Linked DNA regions of Homo sapiens: all the other regions are linked to region 2. The links come from fine-mapping of genetic effects on gene expression. A gene starts in region 2. Each other region holds a variant in brackets. All regions are shown on one strand. Distances are from middle to middle.

Evidence for each region. PIP is the estimated chance that this variant, and not a neighbour inherited with it, causes the effect.
Region 1: its variant is fine-mapped to the expression of MBTD1 in whole blood (TOPMed, PIP above 0.99).
Region 3: its variant is fine-mapped to the expression of MBTD1 in naive CD4 T cells (Schmiedel 2018, PIP 0.90).

The regions. Positions count from the first base shown.
Region 1 is chr17:51,350,138-51,358,304 of GRCh38, forward strand. No RefSeq gene overlaps it. Among named protein-coding and RNA genes, the nearest start is that of LINC02072, 18 kb to the left of the region's middle. The variant G/A (reference allele first, on the strand shown) is at 3,844.
Region 2 is chr17:51,256,667-51,264,847 of GRCh38, forward strand. It overlaps MBTD1 (mbt domain containing 1), which reads right to left and starts at 3,383. Exons shown (of 17, transcript NM_017643.3): 1 at 3,169-3,383; 2 at 2,477-2,540. UTP18 (UTP18 small subunit processome component) reads left to right here and starts at 3,880. Exons shown (of 14, transcript NM_016001.3): 1 at 3,880-4,260; 2 at 6,608-6,720. The coding sequence starts at 3,919. RefSeq lists silencers at 3,121-3,440, 3,781-3,890, 4,241-4,430 and an enhancer at 4,901-4,950.
Region 3 is chr17:50,644,529-50,652,709 of GRCh38, forward strand. All of the region lies in intron 1 of ABCC3 (ATP binding cassette subfamily C member 3), which reads left to right. Among named protein-coding and RNA genes, the nearest start is that of ABCC3, 14 kb to the left of the region's middle. The variant AAAG/A (reference allele first, on the strand shown) is at 5,057.

The DNA.
Region 1 (8,167 bases), 93 kb after region 2:
TTTAACTTGTCTTCTTTCAACCAGCAAAGGAATGATTGGAAGCAAGGCTAGGTAAGGGGAGTGGCTGCCTAGAATGACTTGGCTTATCAGGAAGGCTCTTTGGTGTCTTTTGGCTCTATCCCTTATGCTGGCTGTCCTCTATGGAGCAGGCTGGGCACTTGGCTGTGATGCCAGTGACTGGGCACTCAGACCCCTCTTGTTCCATCAGTGCCCAGAAAGGGGCCAACAGCAACAACTTCTGGATGCATTCTTCTTTGCTCTCTTGGAGAGGCCAGTCTTGAGCACAGTTTTCTCTTGGCGATGGGCTGGATCCAAAGACTTGGTTGGCTCCTTCTCCCATGTCCATATTGCTTTTGTCCTGTGGTTCCCAATTAGGCATGATTTTGCTCGTACTTCCTACCTCCTGGGGACATTTGGCAATGTCTGGAGACAGTTTGGATGGTCACAACTGGGTGGGGAGGAGGGAGTTATTGGTATTTGGGGTGGAGGCCAGGGCTGCAGCTAAACTTCCCAAAATGCACAGGACTGCCCCCCACAACAAAGAATTACCCAAGCAAAATGTCAGCAGTGCTGAGGTTGAGAAATCCTACTTAGCCCTATTCTTTTAGGAGGTCCAGTAGGTCTGGAGGTTGAGGCAGAAGAAGAAGGAAACTGGGTGTTTGTCTTTTTACATCTCAGAGTACTCTGTAGGGATGGGCTCAGGCTGCTAAGGAGGTACTTGTCTTCAGGGCACCCCATCACTGCCCCCCACAACCCCTACTTATCTAGCCCTCCTTTATCTGTGTTAATTCTGTTTTAAACCAGTACTGTTTGACAGGCAGAAGCATCTTCCCCCGAGTTCCTATGCCCGGCCTGCTTTTGGCCGTGGCCTTGATGGCTCCGGTTGGGAATCCATGTGTTACTGTTTGGAGAGAGTCATATTTTTTACAGCAACATAACCCATTTTACCTTTATGGTAATTGTTTTGGAATAAGAAGTAATCATCCAGGACTGACCAACTTGCTTTTCTAAGTGCTCCTTTCTCACTCCTGGCAAATTGCTTTGAGAATTGAACAAAGCCCGGCTCAATCATGCAGGATATCCATTCCAAAGGATGCCGGTGAAGTAAATCTCTGTTAAGCCAGCTCAAGCCATGCCTCCTCCTCCCTTTTCCCAGAGATCAAATAGTGAGCGTGTGCTTCATTCCACATGCCCCTTGTCTTGGGGATGGGTGCTTTAAGCCTGGGGCTTGACCAGGGCACTTGCGATGCTCACGGGACTGCATAGGAAACTTGGTGCAATAGACTGTGGTATTAAAGAGCTTTTGGTCCTTGGGGCTGAGGTCGGAGTTAGCACTTTCCACGTGGCTGTTGAAGTTAATTTATGGAAGGCTTTCCTTGACGTATATCCTATGGAATGTTAAATAGGTATTGATTGAAGAAGTAGTCAAATGGGTTGGAGAAACTCATGTTCTTTGCTGCAGGACTTCTCAAGGTCTTTAAATGGTTAATGAGCTGTATGACTTGTCAAGAGGAGGATATAGCTATGTGGTTATTTCCCAAATTTATTTGGTCTTAGAACTCTGTTTTTAATGGAGCATCTCCCAAGGTGAGTGATCTGCTGAAAAGGATGTTATCATATTGGAAAGGGGAAGAATTCGATCTCCTCCACTCTCCCCTCCTCCCCTTCCCTGCCCCTTCCTTCCTTTCCCGTGATATGATACAAGATTTTTGTTCTGGGGGATGTCCTCTTTTCATTCATAAAATGAGGTTTTGTGAGGCAGCGTGGTCTGATGGAAAAATCATAAGCGCTCCCACCTCAAGGATGTTGAAAGTGCTCCTCCCTCTCCCTGTAGGAGCTTCCATCTCATCCCCTTCCCCAAGCTAACTCCTGCTTATTCATTTTCCTGGGCTCAGCTTAAACATCACATTCTTGAAAAAGCTTTTCCTTGGCCTTGGCTCAGGGAATATCTGGGACCGCAGCCCAGTTCAGCTGCTTACTAGCTGCCTGAACTCACTGGTTCAGTTGTCAACATAAGATTGCAAGAGAACTCATGCATATATTTTTGTGTATTCCTGGTGCTTGTATTTGAAGTCCAAGAAGAGGATTTTGATTATTTGTTACTTGTGGGATGATGGCAAGGTTAGGAGTGTTGAAAAAACCAGTTTGTAAGAAGAGCTCTTGCCTGGGTGTGGTGGCTCAAGCCTGTAATCCCAGCACTTTGGGAGGCCAAGGTGGGAGTATTGCTTGAGCCCAGGAGTTTGAGACCAGCCTGGGCAACATAGCTAGACCTCATCTCTACTAAAAATAAAAAAATTAGCCAGGCATATTGGTGCACACCTGTAGTCCCAGCTACTTGGGAGGCTGAGGTGGGAGGATTGCTTGAGCCCAGGGATTTGAGGCTACGGTGAGCCAAGATTGCACCACTGCACTCCAGCCTGGGTGATAGAGTGAGATGCTGCCTCAAAAAAAAAAAAAAAAAAAAAAAAAAAGAGTTCTTGGCCTGAGTGTAGATGGGGTCTTCACTGAGTCCGGTGCTGTATGTAGCTCTGCCTGTACGGCAGCCTCTGCTGCGCTCTGTGGTGGAGGAAAGGAGCACCAAAATGCGAGTTGGGAGCCCAGGGTTCCAGGCTAAATTTCGATTCTACTCCCAAGGCCTGAGGTATGCAGTTATACAAGTGATTGTGCTGTAACATGCTGATCTCTAGAAGTAATTTATTTCTATTTGTGTCATCTCCCCACAAATGCTATTGTGAGAACTGCTGCCATCTTGGTTGTTAATATGTGACTGGGAGTCAAAATGAACAGGTACAACACCAGTGACCATCCCTGCAGCACCAGAAGGCTTATGAATCATGTCTCAGAGCAGCTCTGTGGGCTCGTTGTCTCAGGAGATGCCAAACCACAGCCCTTCTATTCATTCTCTCATTAGTTCAACAGACACTGATTGAGCCTGACCCTGAGCCAGCCTCCATCAGTGCAGGGTGTGGGGGATATAGAATGAATAAGACAGTGTCCTTAACTCAAAGGGATCATCCTCAGTTTCTCCAAACCAGAGGTGCCAACCTTCCCACTGCTGTGTCTCTAGTCTGCAGTCAGGTACAATCCAACTTCTTGAATCCATTCACTTTGCATAGTGGCAGCCATTCCTCTCATTCATCAGTGTTGCCTCTTGCTTCAGGGGTCCAGCCTTTTAGTTTACAGGTCAAGAATTTTAGGGGGATCTTTCTCCTCCTCTCTGCCGACCCCCACCTTGGCCCATGGGGGTGAGAACTTCTGCTTTTACATCTCCCCGCTCAGGGAAGGACTGCCGTGTAAGCTCTGTTCCTCTCTCTGCCCTCCTGTTTCTCTTCATTAGAGGACTGGTTGAGTCATGTTTTGCTGCTGGGCAGGGTTTCTGGTGCCTCAGCAGTGGGAAAGAGGCTCCACTTTATCTTTCTGAGCTGTTTGCCCCAGGACTCAAAGACCTTTGTTCTCACTCCAAGCCTGGCCAGGTGGGGCATCCTCATGGTCTGGTGGGTTCCAAGGTCTAGACCTGGGGCAGGAGTCAGAGGCGTCCACTTTGGCCTGAGTCTAATCTGTGTTTGCCATTCCAGCTTTGTCAGAGGGCTCTACTTTGGGTGGTTTGGGGGTATAAAACTGGCCATTAATAAATCTGAAACTCTAATTCCCCTTGTTGTCTTTGTTAGCTGGTCAGCGAGAGGGGAAGAAGGGTTGGTGCCCGCGTTCTGGCTCCAGCCCTATCCCAGACCTCTAAACTTCAAAGCAGAGATGGTGAGGGACATGCTCAAGGTCCTGAGGACTCTTGGAAGATGTGGGACTTGAATTCATGTCTCCTGACTCTTGGCGCAGTGCTCTTCTCCC[G/A]TATCTGTCTCTCCTCAAATGGACAGAACTCACCAGTTGGCTCTCTGCTTGTTGAAAAGAGGGTATGGCTGTGTAGATGCCATGATAAAAATATGGAATCTGGACCCAGAGAAAATTGGGTTTCAACATTTTACATTTTCCCCTACATCTTAATTCCCTCATCTGGAAACAGGGTTAATAAGGGTATTTTCCTCAGTGTTATGACAAGCATGAAAGAATCCACATACCATGCACAACACGGTGTCTGAAACCGAGCAATTGCTCCATAAATGTTAACTATTTTCATGTCATATCAAATGAAACTTCCAGCTAGAAAAATTTTTCCCAAGAAGAGGAAAACAGTATCCAGCCAATGTAAAGTAGCAGGGCGTTTTCTTAATGAACAGTGTATCAGCTAAGTTTTTGAGGAGCAGTAATTCCTGTCTGGAATTTACCTGGGTATTGTAACTCTTCCCTACTGGCCATGTAGCCCAGGCTGAATGCTCTCAGTATATACATCTAGAACACCACAGGCGCCAATATCTATAAATAGGGAGGAAGCCATAAATGAGAGCTCATTAAGTTCTTACTGACTGCTGAAAAGTAAATTAGAAAAAATAAACAGAGCTGAACATTTGTGTAAACCTCAATCTTTTTGATGTTTTTCAATTAGCAGAGCCATTTTTCATGTGAAAAATTAATGGCTGTCATGTGCCACCTGGCTTATAGAATCAAGTGACAATTTGTTTTAATGACCATTTTCTACCTCTGGATTCAGGTGGACATGACCAGTTACAGGCCATTGGCGATGGGAGGAGGCAAAGGGGAGTGGGCCTTTAGGGAGCACTGCCCCCATGCCAGGCACAGTGCCAGGCTTGCAATGCACGTCCTTCCCTGAATTTCCTCCATGGCCCAATGAGGCTGTTGTTATCCTCATTTTATACATGTGGTTCTGAGAGGTGAAGAAATTGCCCAAGGTCACACATAGATGTTCAGGGCAGTCTGATTCTATAATTTGTGTCTATTCCACCAAATCACATTCTGCAGAGGGAGAAAGATTTGGCAGGAAGGAGGGAGGTGCCTGCTGATCTCTGGCAGGCAGCCTGCAACAAGGGTGGGACTGAACCAAGTGGTGGGGGTTGACATGGGCAGAGTCCAGCAACAGGGATCCTGGTGTGGGAGATGCTTAGGGTTCTGTCAGCGCAGAGGTCTCTCTTTGAATAGCAAAGCATTTGTCATCAGACTAGGGCTCAGAGTAGAAGTCCAGTCTCTGGGAGGGAGACTGAGAGTAAGGCAGGAGCCAGGCAGGATGTCTGTTTCAGAAGGGACCCGAGTTAGCAGTTGCTCAGTAAGACCACTGCATAGTTGATGAGGCCAAGAAACTAGAGGCAGACACCACGTCAAAGGCCACCTGTAATGCTGGAGCCACCTCATTAGAGTTGGCACAGTAGCAAGGAAGACTGAGGCAGAGCTGACACATTCTGTCTGGAGCTGCCTTTTGGAGGGAAGTGAGGGGAAGAAACTGCATGTGGAGTCAGAAGCCTCAGCTGTGGGCAGGGCTGGAGCAGCGGAGCAGGCCTGAGAGCCAGGCAGGGGCTGATGACCGTGATGACAGCTTTCACGGATTGTGGGATGGGCCCTTTTATGCATAATCTTTAATCCTGAAATAACTTCAGGGGATAGGCACTACTATCTCTTTTTGTATATGGGGAAGTGGAAGTTCAGAGAGACAGAGGGGTGAGGTCCTTTGCTTACAGGCACACAGTGGCCATCTGGCAAAGCAGAAATGAAAACCCAAAGATCTGTGCATGTTCCTCCCGCTCCCATACTGCCTCCCTGCCATCCCTAATTCAAAACAGATGATTACTTTCTCCATCCACTGCTTCTTCCCTGCCCTGCCTGTAACTGACCAGCGCCAGTCTGCAGAAACAGCAGCAGCCTTGGATTTAATTTTCTGGGCATTATAACCGACACTGCGGAGAACATCTCGGCTCTAGGGACAAATCTGTCTGATGACAGTGCACACGTGAGCTCCTTCCTAGACTGAGGGTGGAGCCGCTGGACCTGACAGTTGCAGCTTATTCTCCCTTTTGGTAATAATGCACGACTAGGCAAGAGAGGAAAAAACCTGCCGAGTAATTCTTTAATTTTAAAGAGTATTTCTCCAAGGCGCAGGAATCAATCAGCCCTTGGGATCCGAGCTTCTGTTCCAGGGGAGGGCGACTTAGGAACAGCTCTGCCTCCCTCAGGCAGGGTAGGGACTCAGTGACCTCAGAAAGATTTCTCGCAGCCGCAGGCTCCTCTTAGGAGTTTTGCTGATTGGTTTGGACTTTACTTTGAACGTGGCAGTAGATAGAAGTGTTAAGATTTTTCATAAGTCTGTCTTTCCATTTTCTTTCCTCTTCTAATTCCTGAGGTTCATAATTATTCTGTTCACCCTTTTGTAGTTGGATAACTGATTTTTGTTGTTGCTGTTGTTGTTGTTGCTATTTCTTTGGGCAGTTTGAATATTCTTCAATGTACATTCCTAGAAGCCTTCCAGAAGCCACGTTCTTCTTCTGGGCAATTCTAGGGAGATGGTGTTTGTTCCAGCCCTGGCCTTGCTGATTGACTGTTTAAAATTTACTCTCCCTGTCTCTGTTCCTCTCTCTTTACAGCATTATTTATCTACCAGTTCATCTACCCACCAATAGTCAATTTATCTATGTAACTATCCATTTGTTCCTCCATGCATGTCATGGTCCTGAATTAGCAAAGATTATGATGCTCGGCTAAGGGACAGCCCTTATAGACTACTCACACTTTCCTATAGCCATAGAAAGCAAAGAGAGTTAAATAAAAAATGAAAAATGCAATTAATCTCAAACCTTGTTGGAATTTATCATTTTTCTAAATGCCCTAAAAGGTTCTCTTCTTTTCTGTGTTGCAGACAGAACAGAAAGAAAATCAGACTTATGTCGATGGGGGTTTTAGACCTTATATCCACAGGTCAGATTTGTAAGGTTGAAGAAAGGAGGTGGGCACCCAAGGGTGAGGACAGCTGCTCACTGATCTCTCCTGATTGCCCACAGGGTAGGTCTTGCACTCTAGATCCCAGGTGAGGGTTTGGGAATCATTGCTTGTCCTTGATCACTTTGTTCTACAGCATCACCCCGAGACATCCATTCACAACTCTGAGATAAGTAACCTTGGAATGGGGAAGTTCTGGTACCTCTTCCAGATGCCTATCTGCTTTCCTTTTATTTTTTCAGAATTAATCCACTTTAATTTTTAAACTTTTTTTTTTTTTTTTTTTTAGGTAGAGTCTCACTCTGTCTCCCAGGTTGGAGTGCAGTGGCGTGATCTCGGCTCACTGCAACCTCTGCCTCCCAGGTTCAAGCCATTCTCCTGCCTCAGCCTCCCGAGTAGCTTAGACTACAGGTGCGCACCACCGTGCCCAGCTAATTTTTGTATTTTTAGTAGAGACAGGGTTTCACTATGTTGGCCAGGCTGGTCTTGAACTCCTGACCTTCAGTGATCCTCCCACCTTAGCCTCCCAAAGAGCTGGGATTACAGGCGTGAGCCACCATGCCTGGCTAATTTGTAAACTTTTAATTGATGAATAATAATCATATATATTTATGGGGTACAATGTGATGTTTCCATACATGTAGGCATTGTAGAATTGATCAAATCAGGCTAATGAACATATCCATCACCTCAATACTTATCTTTTTTTTTGTGATGAGGACTTCTAAAATCTACTCTATGAGTTCAGCTTTTGAAGATTCCATACATGACTGGGCGTGGTGGGTCATGCCTGTAATCCCAGCACTTTGGGAGGCCGAGGCGGGTGGATCACTTGAGGTCAGGAGTTCGAGACCAGCCTGACCAATATGGTGAAACCCCATCTCTACTAAAAATACAAAAATTAGCTGGGTGTGGTGGCAGGTGCCTGTAGTCTCAGCTACCTGGGAGGCTGAGACAGAAGAACTGCTTGAACCCGGGAGTTGGAGGTTGCAATGAGCCGAGATCACGCCACTGCACTCCAGCCTGGGTGACAGAGTGAGACTCCATCTCAAAGAAAAAAAAAAAAGATTCCATATATATGTGAGATCATGTGTAGTATTTGTCTTTCTGAGCCTGGCTTATATCACTGAGCATAGTGTCCTCTAGATTCATCCATGTTGTTGCAAGTGACAGAATTTTCTTCTTTTTCAAGGCTGAATATATTCTGTTGTATATATAGACACCACATTTAAAAAATCAATTTATTCATTGACAGGCACTTAGGTTGTTTCCAGATCTTGGCTATTGTGAATGATGTGGCAATGAACATGGGATGCAGACATCTCCTTGACATACT
Region 2 (8,181 bases):
AAAATTGAGTTCTTCAATTTTTAGTTCCACTAGTTACATTTCAAGTGCTCAACAACCACATGTGGCTAGTGGCTACCGTAACTGGACAGCAAAGATATAGGAAATTTCCATCATTGCAGAAACTTCTATTGGATTATGCTGATACTAGACTAACCCTTCAACTGCCATGAGAAAATGGAGGCACAGGATCTTGTCCAACAAGGGCCATGGAGCTACTCAATGGCAGAATTGTGACATCAACCTCACTGCCAGCACCCCTCTTATTGTATCACTTCATCCTATCTCATATTCAGGGTTTGTTCAAATGGGAATTATTTCCTTTTCACCTTTTATTGTGGGTTCCAGCAAAGCAAGAAGAGAAATCCTAAATTTGCAGGTAAAAAAATCCTTAAGCCAAGGTTTATTAAAAAATAATGATTAAATCTATGTGCAATTTTTGCCTGAAATCAAAAGTCATCTTGCACAGTTAAGAATACTGTGGTGTTAGGAGAAATATCTTAGCTTGTTTTAACTATTGTAAGTCCTTTCTCTTTTATTGTCCTGATGTTTTTATTCTTTCTTGAATTTTGAAACCCTCAGACTAATGATACATAAGTGTGAAAGGTTATATCTTATTTAGCAAACATTTTAAAGATGAAAAGCTGAGAAACAAAGAGCAACCCAAAGAATGTCACTTGTCTAATTTTAGAATGTGGTTACTCAGACTACTGAGCACTCTTGGCTTTTAGTAATTCAGTGGTTTAGTATTTATCCTAATATGTTGTTTTCACTTTTAAACTATAGCTTATATTTTCCTTTGATCACTATGTTACATTTGAAAACAATTTAAAATGTTGTTTTAATTTTCAACATTATTGAGGGACCAAAAGCAGCACTAGAACATCTAGAAAGGTTTAGATAATAAGGTCAACATATAACCAGCTTTAAAGAATATGGCAGCGTCTTAAAAATAAAACCAGTTGTTCCTGTCTAGTATGTTTAGAATGCAGATGTCTCCAAAGTCAGTCAACTTAAGTCATGACAGTTCATGTTTAAAGTAAGCAGGAAAAAAACTTGGAACTCCTTATTAATTAAAATGTTAAAAACACTATTATTACACCTCTACTGATTCTTTTTCACAAGCTGAATTCTAATGAGTAGATTTAGAGGAAATATTTTATGTCAAACATTACATAAAGTTAGAAACTGGATGGTTAAAAAGCATGACGCAACAACGTAAGGCACTATGAATAAATACTTATTCAAGACAGATGTTGCCATAATTTGCAAGGTACTCACAAGCAATCAGTATGGGGTTTTAGATAGATAGAAGCTACTTGTTATTCAGAGAAGGAGGTGGTGCAAAAAAAAAAAAAAAGTACAGCTATTTTCTTTCTAAACACTCTGGTGTTGAGGTAAACAAATGAAAAATAAAATAACAGTCTAAGTCCACAAGAGCAAAGCAACAGTCTCTAAGTTATAAGAGGAGGAGAGAAAAATTGAGTCTAACCTTTTAAATAGGAGACTGGGGCTTAAGGTGAAATTTATTTGCTGGCTTTTAAATCACATGCATTATTTCTACATTATACCTGTTATGTCTTGACACCCACTTCACCACATTAGAGAGTAATAGGTATATCCAAGATTCTTAGGCCAATAAAACTACTTTTAGAGGCAGCATAGCTCACCAAATGAAGGAGAATGTTAGAAAAACACCCAGTGACAATAGTTTCAACTATCTCAACCACCCAGTGATAAGTACTGGTGCATGCTAATATAAGGAGAATTAAAAATATTGTAAACTCTAAACAAGTATTAAAATGGTTCGTAAATTTCAAATCTCATAAAAGATAGTTACTTAAAAAAAAAAAAGAAGGAGTAAAAGCATTTGGAAGAGAGGCCCTTGGAGGAAAGACTAGCTTCCGAGGAACACAGGTCAAATACGGGTGTGGGCGGTAATCATCTAATCATCCCTCTACCAGGTGATGCTTCTAACCACTTCAGTTTTAGACATCCTTAGAAGTGATTTAGGTAATAAACAAATGTGTTTTGTGATACAAGAACCACGGAGATGACGCTGAAATTTCTAACTTCAAAAAGATGCACTCCTAAGAGAAAACAGGCACGAAATTCCCATATTGTAATTCTTTAGCTTCCTGTAGAAAAACATCTTCAGGCATGTAAGCCAGCACACTTGACACTGACCCAGCAAAGTTTTCGGCTAGCCCTCACTATCTCTCAACCCCCCTTCCTCCACTTCCCTGCTGTTCTTTCTTGGCACACAAAATATAGGCCAATGAGCAGTGGGTGGGTGAGGAGGATGTGAGAGAAAATTTGAGAAGTAAAAAAAGGAGCAACTTAACCAGGACATGAATGAGACTGAAGGGTCTAATAAGGGTAGGCAGACAACAATTAGAACTACTGAAATATGGGCTTTCCTGGGCAGTAGTGAGCTCTCAGTGCTTTTAGGGGTGTAAGCAGGGTTCAGACTACCTACCACTTGTCAGAGAGGCTGCAGAGGGGACGGCTGCTTTGGATGACCTCTAATGTCTCTTCCGACTCTGAAATGTTAGGATTCTTATTTCACAAAGGAGAACGCAATGGTCACAGAAGTCCACCGACTTGAAACCCTTTTAAATATGCAGCCTTGGAGGCTGCTTCCCAAACACCACTCCCACCTCTCCCGCACGTGCCCACCCCGCCCCCTTTCAATATTTCCACCTCCACGTGCAAACCGCCTCGCGGCACTGCCCCCAAGGCAGATAGACACCTTCCCCTGCAAAGCAACGAAACTGTGCTCCCCCTCCCCGCCAAGAAGAGAGGACTACTCCACTCTCCCACCCTGGGTGGCTAAAAAAGGAAAAGTCTCGGATCCAGCCTTTCCCCCCTAGCCAGAGCAGGGGGCGGGGGCAGGACGCAGAGAAAAACTTTCTTCTCGAATTTTTCTTCCAAAGGGTGGAGGAGATGGAGAGAACCCCAACGAGTCCAAGGCTGACGGGGTGGGGGGAGGGGAACCCCTGAATCGTTTAACGGCTGGAAGGGGGAGGGGGGCTCCGGAGGTTGAGAGGGCGTGGGATGGAGAAGCAGGCCAGGGAGCGGGGTCAGGGAGCTGCGGGGTTCCTGGGGTCGGAGAGCTGCAGGCGTCCCCCCCACCTGGCACACAAAGCGGCTGCCGCGCTCGGCTCTCACCAGATCCTTTGTGTTTTCCATCAGGGCCTCATGGGTAGGGGTTGTCCGTGCTCCCCGAGCCCGCGGCGCCCCCTCCCCGGGCTGGGGGCAGGTGCCTCTCCCCGGGACTGCGGCGACTACAGGGGGCCCCCGGCTGGGCCCAGACCGGTGGCGGGTGCAGCAGCCCCCGGATTTCCCCCCTTTAACTCGGGTGGCCCCAGGATATCAACAACATTAGCATAGCCCTCCCTCCCCAGCGCGCCTGCGCCGTGACCCGCGCCCCGATTGGCCCACTTCCCTACATACCCTCCTCTCTCGCTTCCACCGTGGGACCCTCTGCAGGCTCCGTACTCCAAGGACCGTACCAAGACGAAGGGTGGAAAGCGTATTGGGGCTTGTGTCAAGTCAAGTGGTTACAGCCAAGAGGAAAAGCAGAAGTTCCATTCAGCCGTCCCAGTGTATAGTCGGGGTTTCTTGCGCTCCTTTCAATATGTTGCAGCTGCGAAATTGTGTTGGAAAAATTTTCCACTCCAGTCACGCCGCTTCCCCCTACACCCGGAAGATTGGCCCTCCCGGAGGAACTCCCACACGGGGCGGGGCTGGGTAGGGGAGCGGGAGTTACGTAGAGGGAGGGAGTGCTGGTCACGTGGCAAGAGGCTGCGCAGGCTCCTTCCGGCCCCCGGGGCTTCGGCGGCGGCGGCCCGCGAGGGGCCTGGGCGCATGCGCAGCGAGGTTCCACGTGAGCGCCTGCGTTTCTCCTCAAACCTAACGATGCCGCCGGAGCGGAGGAGACGAATGAAACTGGACCGGAGAACCGGAGCGAAGCCGAAGCGGAAGCCCGGAATGAGGCCGGACTGGAAAGCCGGAGCGGGGCCAGGCGGGCCTCCCCAAAAGCCTGCCCCTTCATCCCAGCGGAAACCGCCGGCCCGGCCGAGCGCGGCGGCCGCTGCGATTGCAGTCGCGGCGGCGGAGGAAGAGAGACGGCTCCGGCAGCGGAACCGCCTGAGGCTGGAGGAGGACAAACCGGCCGTGGAGCGGTGCTTGGAGGAGCTGGTCTTCGGCGACGTCGAGAACGACGAGGACGCGTTGCTGCGGCGTCTGCGAGGCCCGAGGGTGAGGGAGGCCGCGGCGCGCGGGCTGGGCGCACTCGGGCGGGGCGCGCGGTGGGCGGTGAAGCTCCGGGGGGCGGAGCCTGGGCGACCTGCGGCGGCGGGGAGCGCTCAGGTGGGAGGGAGCCCGAGAACGCGGGCGCGGAGGGTCGCAGCTGCGGGTCCCTCGCCTCCCTGCTCCAGACTGAAAGTGCCTGGAGGGCGGGGACCGCGTCTTTCTCCGCCCCTGGAGGCGCCGCTGCTCGGGTATCTGCTTTGCGAACTGTGGTCGTGAGCATCTTTCGCTGCTGCTCGACTCCGCTAGCCTCTTCCCAAACTGAGGGTGGTCTTTTGATCACCTGCCTCAGTTCCTTGTGATTCAGGAATTCGATTTCGTTGATGGAATCAATTCGTGGGCACGGGCCTGGGCATCTCCGTTGTAACTATGTCCCCATGTGACTATGAGACCCACCATGTTTTGAGAATGATCGTGTATTCCGTTCATTTAGCAAATATTGGTGAACCTGTTAGTTGCCAGATACCCTTTCTGGCAATGGCAAACCCTGCGTGATTGATCATACTTTTTGCACACATTTTGCTATCCCTTTAAATTCTATACCAGGCTTTTCTTGAGAGAGTCCCGGACATTGTTCTAGGCACTGGAGGAGACACAGCAATGGACAAAACTGACAAAAATCCCTGCCTTTTGGCGCTTGTGTGCTAGTGGCAGAGACAAGATAGAGGAGATAAACGAGTAAACTTCAGGTTTGTTGGTGACAAGTGCTGAAGAGAAAAAAGGACATTCGGGAAAGGGAGATGGGCGTGTGTAGAGGCCTGTGAAATTTTAGATAAAGGGGGCAGAGGAAAGCTCACCGAGAATTACCCAGGCCATGTTTATTACACAAATGCTGACCTAGTTAATGTCAGCTGCTTACCAGAGCCGCCTTCGGGTGCTTGTAGGAGAAGTGGCAGCAATCTTTTTGGGAAGTACAGAACTATTACTGGAAACATGCTGAACTGTGCGACGGTTTTGTCGTCTGGAAAAGGAACAGTGTACGGAGGTGGGAGCTGTTGGGTTTGAAGGCTATTAGACTAGTAGTAGAGCAAGTAGAAACCACTTGGACATTTCTATCATTGGTTTTGGGAAGCTCAAACTCACTTCAAGGGATATTCTGTGGTCTAGGTTTAGATTTTTTTTTTTTTTTAGACTCGCCCTGTCGCCCAGGCTGGAGTGCAGTGGCGCCATCTCGGCTCACTGCAACCTCCACTTCCTGGGTTCAAGCGATTCTCCTGCCTCAGCCTCTGGAGTAGCTGGCATTACAGGCGTGCGCCACCACGCCTGGCTAATTTTTTTTTGTATCTTTAGTAGAAACGGGGTTTCACCATCTTCGCCAGGCTGGTCTCAAACTCCTGACCTCGTGATCCGCCCGCCTCGGCCTCCCAAAGTGCTGAGACTACAAGTGTGAGCCACCGCACCCGGCCTAGGTTTAGATTTGATAGTATAAACTTTATGGTATAAATTTATAACTTTAGAATTTAGATTTAATGGTATATTTATTTTTTACTTATTTAGAGATACGGTCTAACTTTGTCACCCAGACTGGAGTGTAGCGGCACCTATTAGTCTTCCATCTCCCTTTTGCTAATAGTAACTGGTTGCTCTTCTTGTTGGTCACAGATAAATTACACCTGCACAATTCTCCGAACACTTTAAACTCAGAAGTCAGCTTCATCCTCCTAGGCTCAAGTGATCCTCCTGCCTCTGCCTCCCAAGTAGTTAGCTGGGGCCACAGGTGCACACCACACACCCAGCTAAATTTAAAAATTTTCTGTAGAGACGAGATCTCCCTATGTTGCCCAGGCTGGACTCGAACTCCTGGGCCCAAGCAGTCCTCCCACCTTGACCTCCCAAAGTGTTGGGATTACAGGCATGAGGCATTGCGCTCTCTGCTGGTATAAAGTTTCTTAAGGAGGTAGGGGGTCAAAAACAGATTGGGAAAATGGAGATATCTTTGACTCTAGTTTGCCTCCGGTCCTGTAATTTCTGTAGTTCTGACATTTCTCCTCCTTTTTTCATCTGCAGACTCATCTTTTGTTCTTGTCTTACTTGGTGTTTTCCTTCCTGCGTGTTGAGTGTTGACTTTTTCTCCTTGACTGTTCCATCTTGCCTCACCTGTCCAGTCGGTGCCATTCTCTGATTTCTCCATTTTCTGCCTCTGCTTCCAGCATTTGCAATGGTAGCATTCCATCCCATTATTTCATCAGAGAGTGGTAGAAAAAACATTCTATGAGCCATTTGGCTGTAAGGCCTATGTGTCTGCAGTCATGGGATAGGAAAATCTCAGTGCTTGAGGGTGTTTTGTCTGCTGTAGGTTCAAGAACATGAAGACTCGGGTGACTCAGAAGTGGAGAATGAAGCAAAAGGTAATTTTCCACCTCAAAAGAAGCCAGTTTGGGTGGATGAAGAAGATGAAGATGAGGAAATGTAAGTTGCCTAACTTTTCTTCTGAATCCCTCTGTACACTTAAAAAAGTTATTTTGCAGATTTTAAAATCATTCTTTTTACCAATTTGTGATTATGTGAAGATTTGAAAAATATTTGAAAGTATAGAAAAGATCTTTCATGGTTCCTGATCCCACCACCGAGGGAGAACTGCTGTTAGCATGTTGTCACACTTCTGTCTCAGTCTCCTCTTTGCTGTATACAGTAGCTAAGAGAATACAGTGTTTGAAGTCAGATCTCGATTTGCCTCCTCTTTTGGCCAGTTTCTAATTGACCATGGGCAGTTTGGAACCTACATTTTTTCCTTTGTGAAATGGGCACAATGATAGTAACTACATCAGAATTTTGTTGGGATTAAACAAAATAGTACTTGTAGAACTTTTAGCACAGTGCCTGAAACTGAGTAAAGGCTAAAAAGAAGGTAGCTCACACCATAGGAACTGTCATGGATGAGAATGTACTGTATGCTTGATTTAACATTTTGACTTTTTCTACATAAAGTTACTTTGTAAACATTTCTCCCTACTTAAAAAAAATAGACATTTTAAAATGGCTATGTTGGAGTCAATTATGTGAATTAACCATAATTTACGTGGCTATTGTTGGGTAGATTTTCTTTTTCCCTTTTTTTTTTTTTAATTATTTTTTTTGAAACAGAGTCTTGCTGTTTCACCTAGGCTGGAGTGCAGTGGTGCGATCTTGGTTCACTGCAACCTCTGCCTCCTGGGTTCAAGCGATTCTCCTGCCTCAGCCTCCCGAGTAGCTGTGACTACAGGCGTGTGCCACCACACCTGGCTAATTTTTGTATTTTTAGTAGAGACAGAGTTAGACGGAGTTTTGCTACGTTGGCCAGGCTGGTCTTGAACTCCTGACCTCAAGTATACACCCGTCTCTGCCTCCCAAAGTGCTGAGATTACAGGCGTGAACTGCTGTGCCCAGCCTTATTTTTCCCTTTAATGCAGATTATTTCAGCATTAATGTTTATCACCTCTTTATGTATAAACCTTTCTTTATTTTCTAATTTATTGCCTTAAGAAAGATTCTTTGAGGTAGAATTACTTAATCAAAGAGCACAGTTATTTTTAAGGTTCTTGATAAGTACTGCCAGACTGCATGCTATGGGGCTCTACCAGTTTGCCTTCCCATTGAAAGGTGTCAGTTTCAGTCCATTCTTAGACACAATGGTTTATTTGTTTTTTTTTTCCAGACTCTGTCAGTTTGGTAGTGGGTAATATCTCTACCTAGTTTGTTTTGAGGAAGTGTTTTTGTGTTTAGTCATTGTCTTCTTTTTTTTTTTTTTGAGACTCTCATCCTTTCATCCAGGCTGGAGTTCAGTGGCGCGATCTTGGCTCACTGCAACCTCCGCCTCCCAGGTTCAAGCGATTCTCCTGCTTCAGCCTCCCAAGTAGCTGGGACTACAGGCACATGTCACCATGCCCAGCT
Region 3 (8,181 bases), 610 kb before region 2:
TGGTGAAACCCCATCTCTACTAATAATACAAAATTTAGCTGGGTGTGGTGGTGTGCACCTGTGGTCCTAGCTACTTGGGAGGCTGAGACAGGAGAATCACTTGAACCCTGGAGGCACAGGTTGCAGAGAGCTGAGATCGTGCCACTGCACTCCAGCCGAGGTGACAGAGTGAGACTCCGTCTCAAAACCAAAACAAAACAAAAACCAAGGCCGGGTGCAGTGGCTCATGCCTGTAATCCCAGCACTTTGGGAGGCCGAGGTGGGCAGATCACAAGGTCAGGAGATCGAGACCATCCTCGCTAACACGGTAAAACCCCGTCTCTACTAAAAATACAAAAAATTAGACGGGCATGGTGGCGGGCGCCTGTAGTCTCAGCCAATCAGGAGGCTGAGGCAGGAGAATGGCGTGAACCCGGGAGGCGGAGCTTGCAGTGAGCCGAGATCACGCCACTGCACTCCAGCCTGGGCGACAGAGCGAGACTCCGTCTCAAAAACAAGCAAACAAAAAAACAGAAAACAAAAATTAGCCTGGCGTAGTGGCATGTGCCTGTAATTCCAGCTACCCAGGAGGCTGAGGTGGGAGAATCGCTTGAACCCTGGAGGCAGAGGTTGCAGTGAGCCAAGGTCGCACCACTGCACTCCAGCCTGGGTGACAGAGCGAGACTTGGCCTTAAAAAAAAAAAAAAAAGAAAGAAATTAACCAGCCGTGGTGGTGCACGCCCGTAATCCCAGCTACTCAGAAGGCTGAGGCACGAGAATCACTTGAACACGGGAGGCAGAGGTTGCAGTAAGCCAAGATTGTGCCACTGCCCTCCAGCCTGGGCGACAGAGCAAGATTCCATCAAAAAAAAAAAAAAAAAAAAAAAAAAAAGATGGGAGAACTCAGAACTCAAGCATATAGATTATTCAACAGTTCACATAGCCAGATAGTTCAAGGCCAGCTGTGGGCTTTGAATGCCATAGTAAAATGTTTGAACTTTGCCTTCTAGGCAGTAGGGAGCTACTGAAAGTTTAAAGGGATGGTATACTATTATTCTTTCATTCATTTATTCAATAAACGTGTATGTGTGTGTGTGTATTTTTTTTTTAAGAGTCCAGGTCTTGCTCTGTTGCTCAGGCTAGAGTGGAGTGGCATAATCATGGCTCACTGCAGCAACAAACTCCCGGGCTCAAGAGATCCTCCCGCCTTAGCCTCCATGTAACTGGGACTACAGGTGCCTGTCACCAGACCAGGCTAATGTTTTACATTTTTGTAGAGACAGCGTCTTGCTATGTTGCCCAGGCTGGTCTCAAACTCCTGGCCTCAAGTGATGCTCCTGCCTTGGCCTCTCAAAGCACTGGGCAATGTCCCTGGTCTTCAATAAATATTTGATTTATTTAAGCAAATCTTTTTTCTGAGCACCTACTATGTGCTAGGCACCATTCTAAGTACTTAGGATACATAGATAAATAAAATAAAGGTTCTTCCCTTCAAAGAGCTTACATGTCAGCAAGTAAAGGAAAAGATGAGAGAAAATATAATAAATCAGTAAATTATATATCATGTCAAAAGGTGATAGGTGTTATAGAGAAAAGAAAAAGCGGAGAAGGGTGGGAGAATTGGGAATACAGGGGTGGGACACAGGTGGCAGTATTAAACAGGATGGTCAGGGTAGGCTTCATTGAGAAAGAAAGACTTCAGGATGTCTGGGGGAGGAGTGTTCCAGGAAGAGAGAAGAGCAAGTGCAAAGGCCCTGAGACAGGAGCAGCAAGTGCATTTAGAAACAGCAAGGAGGCCAGTGGCTGGAGTGAAGCAGGAAAGGCGGGGAGAGGGTCATGGGTTGGGGGAAGGGACATTGTGCAGGTCTATGCAGGCTATTGTAGGGTGTATGGAGTGAAGATGTCAAGTCAGCAGTTAGATATGGAGCTGGAGATTTGGGGAGCAATGAGCTGGAGAGATAGACTTGAAAGTCATTGGCATATAGATGGTACATCATATCATCATATGAGACTGCATGGGATTGCCAAGAGGTTGAGTGCAGATAGGAAGGAGGCAGAGAAGAGGAAAGGACTGAGCTCCAGGACCCTCTTGCACCAGGCAGGGGAATCAGCAAAGAGACTGTGATGGCATGGCCAGAAAGGAAGGGGAAAACCATGCAGGATCTGGGACCCCAGGGAATCTGAAGGGAAGAGACCAGAAGTCTATGGCAATTGCTCATGAAGAGATGAGGGTCTGGCCAAGGGGCCAGGTGGGAGGAACCAGGTAAGAGATATTATCATCCCAATGTTACCCTTAAAGAAACCAAGGCCCAGAGAGGGGAGAGGTTAAGAACCTGGGTCAAGATCACACAGCTTAAGTGTGACTTCTTCTTTTTATTTTTTATTTTTTTGAGACGGAGTCTCCCTCTGTCACCAGGCTGGAGTGCAGTGGCACAATCTCAGCTCACTGCAACCTCCGCCTCCCGGGTTCAAACAGTTCACCTGCCTCAGCCTCCCGAGTAGCTGGGATTACAGGTGCCTGCCACCACGCCCAGCTAATTTTTGTATTTTTAGTAGAGACGGGATTTCACCATGTTGGTCAGGCTGGTCTCGAACTCCTGACCTCGTGATCTTCCCACCTCAGCCTCCCAAAGAGCTGGGATTACAGGTGTAAGCCATTGTGCCCGGCCAAGTGTGAGTTCTTTTAAGCTGTGTGACCTTGGCCAAGGTGCTTAACCTTTCCCTGCCAAGTCTCAAACACCTCTTTGTCCAGCTACTATGCTTCCATCAAGAATCAATAGGACCTATGTCCCTACAGGTGTCAGGGTAGCTGGCAGAATGGTGATGCCCTTGGCAGAGGCAGGCAAGGCCAAAGGAAGGGCTGGTTCTGGCAGGGAGTGAAGGATCTTACTTTGAGAGGTATTGAATATGAGGTGGCTGCAGACAGATGGTGACGCCATCTGAGAGGCAGCAGGAAGTAGGCGCTGAGGCTCAGGAGGTGATTTGAGCTGTTGATCTGGATTTGGGACTCCTCAGGACAATCTGTGAACAATGATGAGAGAGAGCACCAAGGACCAAGGTCTGAACTTGGGAGCTAGGGCCCATGTCCACAGGGTGAACTGGAAGGAAGATAAGGAGACAGCAAGGAATGCTTGCCAAGAAACCAGGAGACCAGGAAAGAGTAGTTTCCAAGAGATGGGGGAAGCCCACACTGTTGCAGGGAGGTCCTGCATAAAGTCTGAAACGGGTCTATTTAATTCGCCCTTGGAGGCTGGGCATGGTGTCTCACACCTGTAATCCCAGCACTTTGGGAGGCCAAGGCGGGTGGATGACCTGAGGTCAAGAGTTTGAGAACCAGCCTGGTCAACATGGCAAAACCCCGTCTGTACTAAAAATACAAAAATTGGCCGGGCGTGGTGGTGGAAGCCTGTAATCCCAGCTACTCGGGAGGCTGAGGCAGGAGAATCACCTGAATCCCAGAGGCGGAGGTTGCTGTGAGCTGAGATCACACCACTGCACACCAGCCTGGGAGACAGAGCAAGACTCTGCCCAAAAGAAAAAAAAAAATTGTAGTTGGAAGGACTTCTGGTTCTATAGGGTGGATTGAACACAAGACTTTATCTCCAGTCCTTCCTGATTTTCCATCAAAGTGACAGTAAGGAATAAAGAATGTAAACCTACAAGGACAAAGAGAAGAGGAGACAACAGCAGACAAGATATTAACACCTTTTTGGAAAGTGAGAAACAGGTTGAGGAGTGATCACTGACACAGCAGAGAACAACTGAAACCAAAGGCCATTTGGAGTCTGTAAAAGCTCGGGGATTGGAGGGCTGAAGGAGGCAAGGGGAAGAGCAGGGCTGAAAGCAGCGGCTGCTAGGAGAATGCATAAGGAGAGATGAAACACCCAAGATACTTATCCATCTCCTCTCAAAGCCAGGCAAATTCCAGCCACCTCACAGAAGACCAGCAGTTTATTCTGTGGAATTAAGTAAAAGTCTGCATACTGAAGGATAGAACCCTCAGCCCTCACTCCTAAATTGGTCCCAGAGAAAAGACCTCCAGATTCTTCCAGTTGTTGGGGGAGTCTTCCCTAAAGGACCAGGTTCCTACTTGATCACTCTGCAGTGAAGCCCAACAGCCAATAAGCTTGGTCCTCGGTACTCTGTCTTCAGTAGCTGTTTCTTGGTCCTTGGTCCTTGGTACTCTCACTCATCATTGTTCACAGATTGCCCTGAGGAGTCCCAGATCCAGTCCCAAATCCACCTGCCCCCAACACACAGAGCAGCCAACTCTTTAGTGTCTTACTCCAAAATATTGAGACAGCCAAGCCGCAAGAATCACCACAGGTCGGGTGCAGTGACTCACGCCTGTAATCCCAGCACTTTGGGAGGCCGAGGCAGGCGGATCACTTGAAGTCAGGAGTTCGAGACCAGCCTGGCCAACATGGCAAAACCCCTCTACTAAAAATACAAAAATTAGCTGGGCATTGTGACACGTGCCTGTAATCCCAGCTACTCGGGAGGCTGAGGCAGGAGAATTTCTTGAACCTCAGAGGCAGAGGTTGCAGTGAGCTGAGATCGTACTACCACACTCCAGCCTGGGCGACAGAGGGAGACTCCATCTCAAAAAAAAAAAAAAAAAGTCACCACACATTTGAGGAAAAATTCTGTTAAAATAAAAACTTTAGACAAATTAAATTTAGCAGAGTTTATCTGAGCAAAGAACAATTCATGAATCAGCCAGCATCCTGAACCAGTAGAGGTTCACAGAGTTTTACCACCCAGCAGTATGGGCAGGCAGTATTAATGGACAGAGAAAGGAATTGATGTATAGAAACAGCTTGATTGGCGACAGATCAGTATTTGCCTTATTTGGGCATGGTGCAATGAGGTGTTTGCCTTATGTGGACATGTTCTGATGATCTGGCAGCTTGTGATTGGCTGAAAATTCTGCTATATTTGGCTGAGACTTGGCTGCTTATTGTAAGAATATACTCTCAAGTTACGTTGCAGTTTGTTTACATATTGAATTATGCTACAGTCCACTATGTATGGAGTCAGCTTTATACCTGGGTGACAGAGTGAGACTTTGTCAAAA[AAAG/A]AAGGAGAGGAGAGGAGAGAGAGGAGAGAGATGAGGGGTGGGGAGGGGAAGGGAGGAAAGGAGAAAGGAAGGAAGGAAAGAAGGAAGGGAGGGAGGGAAGGGAAGGAGGGAGGGAAGAAGGGAAAGAAAGAAGGAAGGAAGGAAGGAAGAAAGAGAGAGAGAGAAAGGAAGGAAGGAAGGAAATAGGCAACACATAAAATAAATTTTTTTAATAGGATCACAGGTCACTGTGAACAATAGCCGTTCATTAAATGACTTCGGAGGCATATACAAAAAGTTACATAGTTGTAGAAAAAGCTTAGCTGTTTTAATAGCGAGTTCTCAGTTTTCTTAAGTGATCAAAAACCTAACAAAGACAGCATGAAGCACAGGAAATTATCTGGGTAGAACACAGAATCTTTGTTTTCTAGGCCAACTACCTAAAGAGAAAGAAAAACATTTTACAATTTCCTATTATGATCAGACCAATAATCTAAGAACACCATGTTGTTTTAATGGAGAGAACCAAATTCTAGTTTTGCATCAGTGTAATTTTGATATTAATGCTAGCTCTTATCGCCCAGGCTGGAGTGCAATGGTGCAATCTCTGCTTACTGCAACCTCCGCCTCCCGGGTTCAAGTGATTCTCCTGCCTCAGCCTCTCAAGTAGCTGGGATTACAGGCGCCTGCCACCACACCCGGCTTATTTTTTGTATTTTTAGTAGAGATGGGGTTTCACCATGTTGGCCAGGCTGGGCTCGAACTCCTGACCTCAAGTGATCCACCCGCCTCTGCCTCCCAAAGTCCTGGGATTACAGGCGTGAGCCACTGCACCCGGTCGCTAACTTTTATTCTTAAAAAACTTGTAAATAATTACCTCCTAATCTTAACCAGCTTGATCACCCATAAAATTTCTTTCACAAGATTCATCTTCCACAAACCTCCTACAACTCTTATATCCATTCACTTTTTGTCCTATACTTTCCTCTTCTCATTTTCGAAAAATCAGTCATTTCACTTTAGGACAAAATTTATTCTCTTTTTCCGTTATCAAAACAAAACATCCTCACGTCTTATAGCTTTTCCTTAGCTTCCTTTGTATATTTCTTTTTCATATATTCCTTTTTCTTACCTTCCTTGTATATTTTCATATAGATTTTCCCCCTTATTGTTTCTAGTAATTGTAGCTACATATATTAATTAGAATTCTTAACCCCGGCCAGGTACAGTGGCTCATGCCTGTAATCCCAGCACTTTGGAGTCCGAGGTAGGCAGATCACTTGAGGGCAGAAGTTCAAGACCGGCCTGGCTGACATGCTGAAACCCTGTCTCTATTAAAAATACAAAAATTGGCTGGGCGTGGTGGCGGGCACCTGTAATCCCAGCTACTGGGGAGGCTCAGGCAGGAGAATTACCTGAACCCAGGAGGTGGAGGTTGCAGTGAGTCAAGATTGAGCCACTGCACTCCAGCCTGGGTGACAGCGCGAGACTCCATCTCAGAAAAAAAAAAAAAAAAAAAGAATTCTTAACCCTTAGTGACCTTAATTTCCATGGACATTAGAAAGTAAGCATTTGTGAATTGTGTGTCACACCAGCTGTAGATTGGTAAATCTATGAACCATAATGTCTAGAAGCATGAGCTTTCTCATAGTACAATTTGTCAGTGTGGCACAGAACATGTTTCTCAATGGTCCAAAATGTCTTTAAGTCTCTCTGTAAAAATAAACTGTAAAGGAGGCAAAATTTCATTTGTATCCCTTTAGGTTTTTTGTTTGTTTGTTTTGTGAGGCCTGAAAACTAAATTGTTGTTTGTACAGATTTCCCTCCTCCTCAACTTTCTATTCTTGATGCTAAGAGTGTTAAAACCTTCTGGTGGCTGAGCGTGGTGGCTCACGCCTGTAATCCTAGCACTTTGGGAGGCTGAGGCAGGTGGAACACTTGACCTCAGGATTTCGAGACCAGCCTGGGCAACATGGTGAAACCCCATCTCTACAAAAAATACAAAAATTAGCTGGATGTGGTAGCTTGTGTCTGTAGTCCCAGATACTTTGGCGGGGCTGAGGCGGGAGGATTGCTTGAGCCCAGGAGGCAGAGGTTGCAGTGAGCCGAGATCTTGCCACTTGCACTCCAGAGTAGGCGATAGAGACCCTATTTCAAAAAAGTAATAATAAAACCTTCTGGTATAGGAAGGACATCTTTTACATGGGAATTTTATCTTACATTCATTTAACTCACTTATTTTCAACACTTATGCTTGGATTGCCTATAAAGATGAGATAATAAACAACTAGTCATCATTTTGTTTTTCTTGCTGACAAATTTTATAATATAAAGACAACATAAGCTTGTTTTACCAGTAAACCTAGATAGGAAATCATGCATCTTTATGATATTTAATCCCCAAAACTATGAAAACATGTCTGTTTCAGTCAAACCAACAATATTCTTATTTGCCAAAGATTACCCAAGTCAGATGAGCTGCAAAAGTATTTGAGGTAGTTCTTAATTTTCTGAGAGAATACTTCATTTATACAAGCACTTATTTTTCTTAAAGCCAACAAAATAGAGCTCTTTCATAATTTAATTTTGGAGCATTAAAAGGAGATAAGAAACTATGATACCTGTATCATACATACAGACTTATATAAACATAAACAGCAACAGATCTTACAGCTTTCATTTAAATATCTTAGCCATGTTCCAGGTACAGTAATATAAAACTCCTGAATTTATTAAAGACTATCTGGATCCAAATTGTTCTTCTGGCCAATGGAACAAGATTTCTTGCCCAGATGACTAAAGCTTTTGAATAAGATTCGTGAAGGAGCTTTTAAGATTTTTTTGTTTGATTTCTGTAAGGAACCTATTATAAAGAGGCAATTTTTTATTCATTTAATCTTTTAGATGCCTCTGTGTATCAATTAAAGAATGCATCCCATTGCTTTTGTGGCATTTTTGAACCTTTCTTTTCTAATGCACCTTGCAAGTGAACAGTTTTATCTAGGTCAAAACTTTCCCACTGTGGCCACTGTAACTCTTAAGTTGTCCTCAGCAAAGTTAACCCATTTTTCCAAAAATACACATGTTCCTCATAATTGTTGTTCATGAAGTTAGCCACCGTCCCAGAAAGTGGCGTCTCAGAC